3 separate regions of the Homo sapiens genome follow, and all the other regions are reported to be linked to region 3. The links are microRNA targets in miRTarBase. Many come from high-throughput screens and were not tested one by one. Region 3 holds a microRNA gene; each other region holds the end of a gene's coding sequence.
The links. Region 3 holds the annotated microRNA hsa-miR-23b-5p (UGGGUUCCUGGCAUGCUGAUUU, at 1,227-1,248, opposite strand). A microRNA usually pairs through its seed, bases 2 to 8, with sites in the 3' UTR of a target mRNA and lowers its output. Matches are read on the target gene's strand: a 7mer-m8 pairs with bases 2 to 8, a 7mer-A1 pairs with bases 2 to 7 and ends in A, and an 8mer does both.

Region 1: miRTarBase lists ADAT1 as a target of hsa-miR-23b-5p. Seed matches in the 3' UTR shown: 7mer-A1 at 1,711-1,717.
Region 2: miRTarBase lists C6orf132 as a target of hsa-miR-23b-5p. Seed matches in the 3' UTR shown: 8mer at 2,230-2,237 and 7mer-A1 at 1,190-1,196.

The regions. Positions count from the first base shown.
Region 1 is chr16:75,597,464-75,600,463 of GRCh38, forward strand. It overlaps ADAT1 (adenosine deaminase tRNA specific 1), which reads right to left. Exons shown (of 10, transcript NM_001324445.2): 10 at 1-2,885. The coding sequence ends at 2,753. Among named protein-coding and RNA genes, the nearest start is that of ADAT1, 24 kb to the right of the region's middle.
Region 2 is chr6:42,101,130-42,104,129 of GRCh38, forward strand. It overlaps C6orf132 (chromosome 6 open reading frame 132), which reads right to left. Exons shown (of 5, transcript NM_001164446.3): 5 at 1-2,749. The coding sequence ends at 2,632. Among named protein-coding and RNA genes, the nearest start is that of C6orf132, 40 kb to the right of the region's middle.
Region 3 is chr9:95,083,289-95,086,474 of GRCh38, reverse strand. MIR23B (microRNA 23b) reads right to left here and starts at 1,267; the gene lies at 1,171-1,267. All of the region lies in intron 16 of AOPEP (aminopeptidase O (putative)), which reads right to left. MIR27B (microRNA 27b) reads right to left here and starts at 1,030; the gene lies at 934-1,030. It overlaps MIR3074 (microRNA 3074), which reads left to right and starts at 381; the gene lies at 381-461. It also overlaps MIR24-1.

The sequences.
Region 1 (3,000 bases), not on the chromosome of region 3:
CAGTCCCCAACCTTTTTGGCACCAGGGACTGGTTTCATGGAAGATAATTTTTCCACAGATCCGGGGTGGGGATAGGGGGATAGTTTCGGGATGACTGAAGTGAATTACATTTACTGTGCACTGTATTTCTATTATTATTACATCGTAATACATGATGAAATAATTATACAACTCACCATAAGGTAGAATCAGTAGGAGCCCTGAGCTTGTTTTCCTGCAACTAGACAGTCCCATATGGGGGTTATGGAAGACACTGACAGATCATCAGGCATTATATTCTCATAAGGAGTGTGCAACCTAGATCCCTTGCATGCACAGTTCACAATAGGATTCACGCTCCTATGAGAATCTAATGCCACTGCTGGTATGACAGGAGGAGGAGCTACGGCAGAAATGTGAGCGATGGGGGGCAGCCATAAATACAGATGAAACTTCAAGTGCTCACCTGTTACTTATCTCCTGCTGTGTGACCTTGTTCCTGACAGGCCACAGACAAGTAATGGTCTGTGGCTCTGGGGCTGGGGGCCCCTGCCCTAAAGCTTTTAGAGGAAGCAGAAGCCCCACCAACAACCTGTTTGGACTTCTAGCCTCCAGAACTGAAAGGGGATACAGTCTTTTCTTCTTATTTTTTGAGATGGAGTCTTGCTCTGTCACCCAGGCTAGAGTGCAGTGGCACGATCCTGGCTCACTGCAACCTCCACCTCCTGGGTTTGAGAGATTCTTCTGCCTCAGCCTCCTGAGTAGTTGGGACTATAGGCGTGCGCCAATACACCTGGCTAATTTTTGTATTTTTAGTAGAAAGGGGCTTCACCATGTTGGCCAGGATGGTCTTGATCTCCTGACGTCGTGATCTGCCCACCTCGGCCTCCTAAAGTGTTGGGATTACAGGCGTGAGCCACTGCACCCGGCCAGGAATACATTTCTGTTGTCTTAAGCCACCCAGCTTGTGGTACTTCGTTAAGAAACAGCTCTAGGAAACTATTACAGGCACAAAATTTGTGATGAAAATGTTCTAAAATTGATGGTTGCACAACTCTGTGGATATACTAAAAAAATTTTTTTTTTTTTTTTTTGAGACAGGATCTCACTCTGTCACCCAGGCTGGAGTGCAATGGCATGATCTTGACTCACTGCAACCTCCGCCTCCCAGGTTCAAGTGATTCTCCTGCCTCAGCCTCCCAAGTAGCTGGGACTACAGGCGTGCACCACCATGCCCGGCTAATTTTTGTATTTTTAGCAGAGACGGGGTTTCATCATGTTGGCCAGACTGGTCTCGAACTCCTGACCTCAGGTGATCTGCCTGCCTCAGCCTCCCAAAGTGTTGGAATTACAGGCGTAAGCCACCGTGCCCGGCCTAAAAACTTTTAAAATGTATACTTTAGTTGGGTGAATTTTATGGTCTGTGAATTATATCTCAATACAACTGTTATTTAAAAATATTTATAGCCACAAAATGCTGAAGAACCAATAAGGACCTTGAGTAACCCCAACATGGGAGCTTCCATTTTCAGTCAATCATTCAAGGTCTGAAGTTGAGTGTTAAACATTCGATGTTAAAACAGGATTGGCTGCTGGGTCTATTGCTGATTTGCTGCAGGGCCTTTTGGCTTCTTTTTTTTTTTTTTTTTTTTTTTTTGAGATAGGGTCTTGCTCTATCACCCAGGCTGGAGTGCAGCGGTACGATCTTTGCTCACCACTACCTCCGCCTCCTGGGTTCAAGCAATTCTCCTGCCTCAGCCTCCCGAGTAGCTAGGATTACAGGTGTGCGCCACCATGCCCGGCTAGTTTTTGCATTTTTAGTAGAGACAGGGTTTCACCAGGTTGGCCAGGCTGGTCTTGAACTCCTGACCTCAAGTGATCTGCCTGCCTGGGCTTCCCAAAGTGCTGGGATTACAGGCCTGAGCCACCAAGCCTGGCCACCTTTTGGCTTTTTGGACAGAACTCTTTCAATTGTAAGTCAGAAAACCAACACAAACAGGCTTAATCAAAATAACAACAGGAATCTGTCTCACATAATTGAGACATCTAAACAGTGTTACTAGATCTTTGATTCTCTTGGCTGTTTCCTTTGTTGCCTTCATTCTTTGCTGGCTTTCTCTAGGTAGTAGGAAAAGATGGCCACCGGCAGTCCCATGATTATGTGACCCTTACAGCTCCAGATCAAAACAGAAAGCCTTTCCTGATACCTCTGAGAACAAGTCCAGGGCAGTCCAGGGCTGGCTCACAGGCTATTCCTAGAGCCAGGGAGTAAGGTTAGCTTCAGCCAAGTCTGAGGCACAGAGCAGGATCACTGAAGAATGGGAAAAGAATGGCTCCCTGAAGAAAGAAAGGCTGGGAATACAAAATATATATTCGCTATGCTAGGCAAAGCTGTAAAACTTGCAGAGCGTCAAACATCATTTCAGCTCAATAAATATTTGCTGAATCAATGTAGGAACCCATAAAACAGAGCTGCTGCAGAGTACTTTCAAAGCATCATGTTCCAAACTCTGATTTCATATTTTAGAGAAGCAATAAAACACAATGGAAGTCAGATAGTGAGGTCATTAGTGAGATGCCATTTTAGCAGAGAGCTACTTCAATCAAGTATAGCTTGCTCTAAGTTCCAGATTCCATCTGTATTACACAACAGAGATGCAAAGCTCAGAAAGAATGTTCCCTGATTTAACTACCAAAAAAGCTAAGACTTGTCCTGCGTGGAGGAAGGCAGTTCAGGATGAAGGGTCCTGCTACCAGAGCAAACATTTCCTTCTCACTTGAACTGGTGATAATCCGGTGGGTTTCTGATCCAGGATCCAAACACCTGCTTCCGGAGTGTGCTCCAGGCTTCCTGGTAAGAGGACGCAGCCTCCTTGTACTCCTGGTAGGTATCCAGCTTCTGCACCCTAATGCACACAGGCCACCAAATACACAGGTTCTCATTGAATAGCCCACCCCAGGGGCCACCAGACACCTGAGCAAGCAACTGGACAGACTTGTAATGAGACTTAGGTAGAGAAG
Region 2 (3,000 bases), not on the chromosome of region 3:
AAAAAAGCTTTATGGAAAACTGTGACAGGCCATATACAAATGTGAGGTATTCATCACCCAAAGATGCCATTTGCTGAGCAACTACTAAGCGCTAGGCACGTGCTGGACGCTTTGCCTAAATCAGTATGTCACCACCACAAGAGGCCTTCCCTGACTACCCTGTTAAAGTAAATCCACTCCTCTCCCCACTCGCTAGTTATTCTCTCACGTTCCCTGTTTTTTCCTTCTTACTACTCCTTGTAATTTATGATGTTTTTGTGTGCTTTTTCAATCCTCTTCCACCAGACAGACTATTAGCTTGCCATGAACAGGAGTCATGTGGGTGAGCTGATGGCAGTCTATCCATACTAAGCACAGTGGCTTGTATCCAGTAGTTACCCAAATCCTTGTTAGACAAACACAGCCACGGAGCTGGAGGCCAGTCCAAACTGGCCTGTTTATCTTCCAAGTCAAGTGAGACTCAGCCTTCCCTGCCCACCCCAGAGCAATATACAGCTGAGAGTCTACGCCCCACCCCTCGAGCCTTAACATAGCAGATAAATTAATGATCTCTTTTATAAAACATTGTACAGGGAAAATACATACATAGAGAGCTAGTGCTGGGGCTGGGGTGGGATTTGCTTCTTGAACACAGATAACCAGACCCTACCCCATCAGGGTGGCTGGCCTTGGTAATCTGGGCATCCACCCACCCCTGCACTTTCTTCCCTAAAGTGGCTCACCTGCTGTCCTGACAACCAGCCTCGGCTGGTTACCACAAATAATAAAGGTCCAACATCTTCCCCCCAAAGGGAACTACTTTCTGGCTGGCCCCCACCAGCCTGCTCCTCTGAAATGGGCACTCTCCAGTCCTTCCTTCTTACTGAGGCAGCCCACCTTGACCTGGTCCCAGGAATTTGGCCCACCAGTACCTGAAGATAGGGAAGCAAGACCAAGGAATATTGTTTCCTGATATGTTTGGTGATCACAGCATCTAAACCAGGACTTTTTTGAAAAGTGGAAGGGGGTCTAATTCACTGGAAAACAAGCATAAACCTGGACTGCCCAGGCAAAGGACACGTGGTCACCCTACTGATAGGTCTCCCCTGCTCCTTTTTTTTTTTTTTTTTTTTTTTTTGAGACGAGTCTCGCTCTGTCGCCAGGCTGGAGTGCAATTGTGCAATCTCGGCTCACTGCAACCTCCACCTCCTGGGTTCGAGCGATTCTCCTGCCTCAGCGCCCCGAGTAGCTGGGACTACAGGCGCCCACCACCATGCCCAGGTCATTTTTTTATTTTTAGTAGAGACAGGGTTTCGCCATGTAGGCCAGGATGGTCTTAATCTCTTGACCTCATGATCCACCCGCCTCAGCCTCCCAAAGTGCTAGAATTACAGGTGTGAGCCACCATGCCCAGCCAGGTCTCCCCTGCTCTTAACTGGCCCAATCCTAGCACTCTTTTTTTTTTTTTTTCCGTATTTTTAGTAGAGATGGGGTTTCACCATTTGGGCAGGCTGGTCTCGAACTTCTGACCTCAAGTGATCCACCGGCCTCGGCCTCCCAAAGTGCTGGGATTACAGGTGTGAGCCACCGCGCCCAGCCAACCAATCCTACCACTCTTGACTTTCCCAAACACATTCCCCAACAGCAGCAAGCTTCTTCAGACCTCCATTCCCATCTCTGCTGCCTCCACTCTCCAAGGCTTTCTAGCATCTTAAGGCATCAAGAGTATTGGTGACTTGTAGTATCAGTGTTAGGAAAAATGCCTTCTCCAAATCCCATATGAGACCTGGCCATGTAAGGCCCCTAGTGTCAAGCCTAAGACTCATGGCTCCTTGGGCCCAGTCCCCAAAATCAGGGCTGCACAGGTCTGAATAGCAAAGCCAGGCTTAACCTTGTTTCCCATCCTAAACTTGCCAAGTGTCCTCTCTCTAGGCCTCCCTGTAGCTAAGGGCTAGGGCCAAGGAAAAATGAACCATCAATCTCCCACCTCTGCCCTTGGCCAATGCAAAGGGCTTCCATTCCACATGTGGGAGCTTCACTCCCCACCCCACACATGGTCCTTCTCCACATGTTATACATACACATTCCTGGTCCCACCTCAATGCGGCTAGGAACCCCAGGTGTCCACTCTTGCTTGGGATGGCAGGTGATGGAGGCTAAAGATCTCCCTTCGGTGCCCTGCACACCCACCAGACAGAGCTGGGCCTCAGCCCTTTGCAAGGGCCTGACAGGCAATCACAGCTATCTCGATGGGTTCCAGTTCAGTCAGTGCCCCACCCCTTGCTTTCAGAACCTGCTCAGTAGGCCGTGCTTGTAAAACTGTTTTAAATAACTCTTGCTAAAGCAGATAGTACCAGAGAGCAGAAACTCAGCGCCCAGGTCCTTAATGGTTCCTTCTCTCTACCCTCCTTCCCCTCCCACCCCCCACGTGTAAACAGTCCACAGTCACACCAGCGCTTTGGGAAACAGAAGCCCACTCTCGGTCTTCCTGGGCCACTGCTTCTCATCGTTGGTCTTTGGGGATCAAAGACTCCTCTGTGTCTGAGTCAGGTCGCCCAACACCTGCTGTGTACCTCCCACCCCCCACAAGAAACAAGTGCCCAGATCCTTAAAGACACAGTTTGTTGGAGTAGAGCTAAGAGAACCCCTGGCTCAGGAGGTGGCTTTCCGATGGGCCCCTGAGCAGACATAGGAGATGGGATGGCGGGTCCCAGGCCTCACGGTGAACGTGTTGATGGGGCTTCCATAGCGGGTGGTGGTGTAGGGAGACCTGGGGGAGAGCAAGAGATGTGAGGTGAATATCTGCAGCTGGTTAGCCAACACGTCTCTCATCTCCCCGAGGGACCGAGAGGAAAAGATGCTGCTCATACTTCTGTATTTGCCCCGACAAGCCCTGGGCTTATCGACCCCAGGGAGGGACCGCAGACATCACAAACAGGGCTCCCATTCTGGTCTGGGCCCTGCTGGCCGGAGAACATGCCTAACAGCCTTTCACTCAGAACTCTTTCACTCCTGGCCTGT
Region 3 (3,186 bases):
AGGCTGTACTCAGGCTTTGCGTACACAATAGCTGCTAGGAGTACCCATTTCAGACACGCACCCACTCTAACTGTTCTCAGAAAGTCTCAGCTCACCTCGCCGTGGGAGAGCTGGGCCCTGCCTCCCTTACACATGGGGGCAAACGGCCCCCTGCTGGCACTGTGTCCTGCCTTCAGGCCTGGGAGCTCTTAACTTTCTGCCAACAGGGTTTTCCAAGTCTACAAACCCCCACGCCGCAGGAGCACATGCAGATGACTGGCACCGTGCTGCCGCCGGGCCGGGGTGGACGCAGGGTGGACGCGGGCCTGTCTGCCGCGAGTGGGAGCCCCAGCTCTCCTGAGCCTCGGGCACTTACAGACACGAAGGCTTTTTGCTCAAGGGCTCGACTCCTGTTCCTGCTGAACTGAGCCAGTGTGTAAAATGAGAACTGATATCAGCTCAGTAGGCACCGGAGGGCGGGTCCAATCGACAGCCCGGAGAAGCAGCGCCTCAGCTGGGAGCTCCGTGGGCACCGTCTGCTGGCGCAGGAGACGCGAAGGCCTGGACTGCAAATACAAGAGAGAGTTCACCGCGCCCAGAACAACAGGAGCTCCTCCGAAAGCCCCGCCCCGCCCCGCTCACAGCCATGAGCTACCACATGATTTCACACGACTTAGGTGATGCATTTGGTTTTAGTTTTTTGTAAGAAGAATTTTTGCAACTTTCAATACATTTGACCTTTCAGACAGATGTCCGATTAGTGCATGTTTCTGTGGACAGACTTAAGGACTCAGTACATGGCTAGCATTCCCAGCAGGAGACAGTGCATCCTTGGGGTCAAGTGGTCTCTCATCCTCCAGGATCGCGCTCCGCACCCAAGCTGACTGTGCAGCAGCGGCCGGCCCGTCAGCAACGGCCTCTGCCCCAGCGGCTCCAACTTAACTGTCCCCATCTCACCTTCTCTTCAGGTGCAGAACTTAGCCACTGTGAACAAAGCGGAAACCAATCACTGTTCACCAATCAGCTAAGCTCTGCACCTTGTTAGAGAGGTCATCGCTGGGCATAAATAAAGGGACGGTGACCGGTGAGCATCTTCCTCAGCTGGTGGCTTCTTTTGTTTCCAAAGAAGAGCTACGAGATGCACCTGTTCTCCAATCTGCAGTGAGCGCGACCACGGTTTCTGGAGGAGCAGCCAAGGTCGTGGTTGCGTGGTAATCCCTGGCAATGTGATTTTAATCTTAAGTCACAAATCAGCATGCCAGGAACCCAAGCAGCCAGAGCACCTGAGAGCAGCGCCACCCCGTGCTGTCTGCACACACTGGGCTTCCGCGGAAGGACGCCGGCGACACTGCCGCCTTCACGCCTGTTATGCTAGCAAACAGGTGGAGTTTCTGTTTGTTGTTCGTTTAGTTGGCATCCTAGAGGTATAATTTCTTGAATCAAAGGGACTCCAGAGATGACCATAAAAATGCCAGTGCAGCTTTGGAACTGAAGAAAAATGCAGGGACCGGCCATGCGACACACACAATTGCTAAAGGCAGCTGTCCTTGCTATTAGTTTACTGCCTCTAACCCTTGGGGACAAGATCCCTTCTCTCCAGGCAGATTCTAGCTGCCCTGGGAAGGCTTTGGGGACTCTCAAGTCAGGAGGTCCCCCTGCTGGAAGGGGCCCTGGGACAATCCCGGCCACTGTTCCTCACGGGGACTGGTTGGGGGGCAGGCTTGCAACCCCTGGATGCATCTGGAGGGGTGGGGACAGGATCGAAGATGCTGGGGAGGGGGAAAAGGGAGACTTGTGACCAAGATGACTCCTTTGCCTGCCTGGGCAAAAATTCCCCATAAAGAGTGGCGAGGGGTGTGCCCTGTGGTGCTGCTCCAAAACCTGCACCAAAGGGAATGATGAAAGGACTAGCTGGCCTTGTAGTTTCACACACTTTAACACGTACGCCACGAAATAACAAAACGAAAGAGAAACACCATTTACACTGATTACTATTATGAGGCCGGCAGTGAGGTAAGTGCACAGTCTGTGTGCCGCCAGCCCGTCCTGGAGGGGAGCCGCGTCAAGTCTGCAGCAGGCGTTTCGCTACGAGACGCTCAGTCCCGTTTCCCTTTCCTGGCACACATGGTTCCTGACTCTTCTGGAAGAATATGATCATGCTTCTGAAAAACTTTTTATTTCTTTTCATTATTAGAGTTCTTTCAGATAAATAAGCTACTTAAACACGTTACACAGAAATGGTTTTCATAAGCACAAAACATTAGAAGAAAACTCAATGTTCAAAACTGAGTGAAGAATATCAACACCAAATATTCAATATCCATGAAAAATTATAGAGAAGCTATAACACGAAAAATGCTTCAGATTTGATAAAGTTTTTTTAAAGATACAAAATTAGACATCCCCTATTAATATCATATAAAACACTGAAGAAAAACGGAGCAGACACAGAAATAATGATGATTGTTAGAGAAAAAAAATCTCACAGCTATCCTAACAAAACCTTGTGTACTACCGCTAGGTTGCTTTAATAGTGTAGAAACCCATACTGAGCAACTAACTGCTAGGAAGTAAATCTAACAGGTTAATTCCAGGCACAATTAACAGAGGAAGTGATTTAAATAATCTAGGACTCCAATAGAAGCCAGGGGAGAAATTCCGCTCCAACACAACAAAGCAAAAAGTAGGACCTGCCCTCAAGACACAGGGTCATGGAGGCCATATGCCACGTGTGCTGTGTGCGCCGCGGGTGCTGTGTGGTGCGTGCACTGTGTGTGCCACATGTGCTCTGTGTGGTGCGTGCGGTGTGTGCTGTGTGTGCCGCAGGTGCTCTGTGTGGTGCACGCGCTGTGTGTGGTGTGTGTGCTGCATGCAGTGTGCGCGCTACGTGTGGTGCATGTGCTGTGTGTGCTCTGTGTTGTGCATGCGCTGTGTGTGGTGTGTGTGCCGCGTGTACTCTGCGTGGTGTGTGTGCTGTGGGTGCTCCAGGTGCTCTGTGTGGTGTGTGTGCTGCGTGTGCCGCGTGTGCTCTGTGTGGTGCGTGCGCTGTTTGGTGTGTATGCTGCATGTGCCGTGTGTGCTCTGCGTGGTGCGTGCGCTGTGTGTGCTGTGTGTGCCGCGTGTGCTCTGTGTGGTGCGTGCGCTGTGTGGTGTGTGCTGTGCGTGCTCTGTGTGGTGCGTCCTCTGGTGTGTGTGTGCTGCATGCAG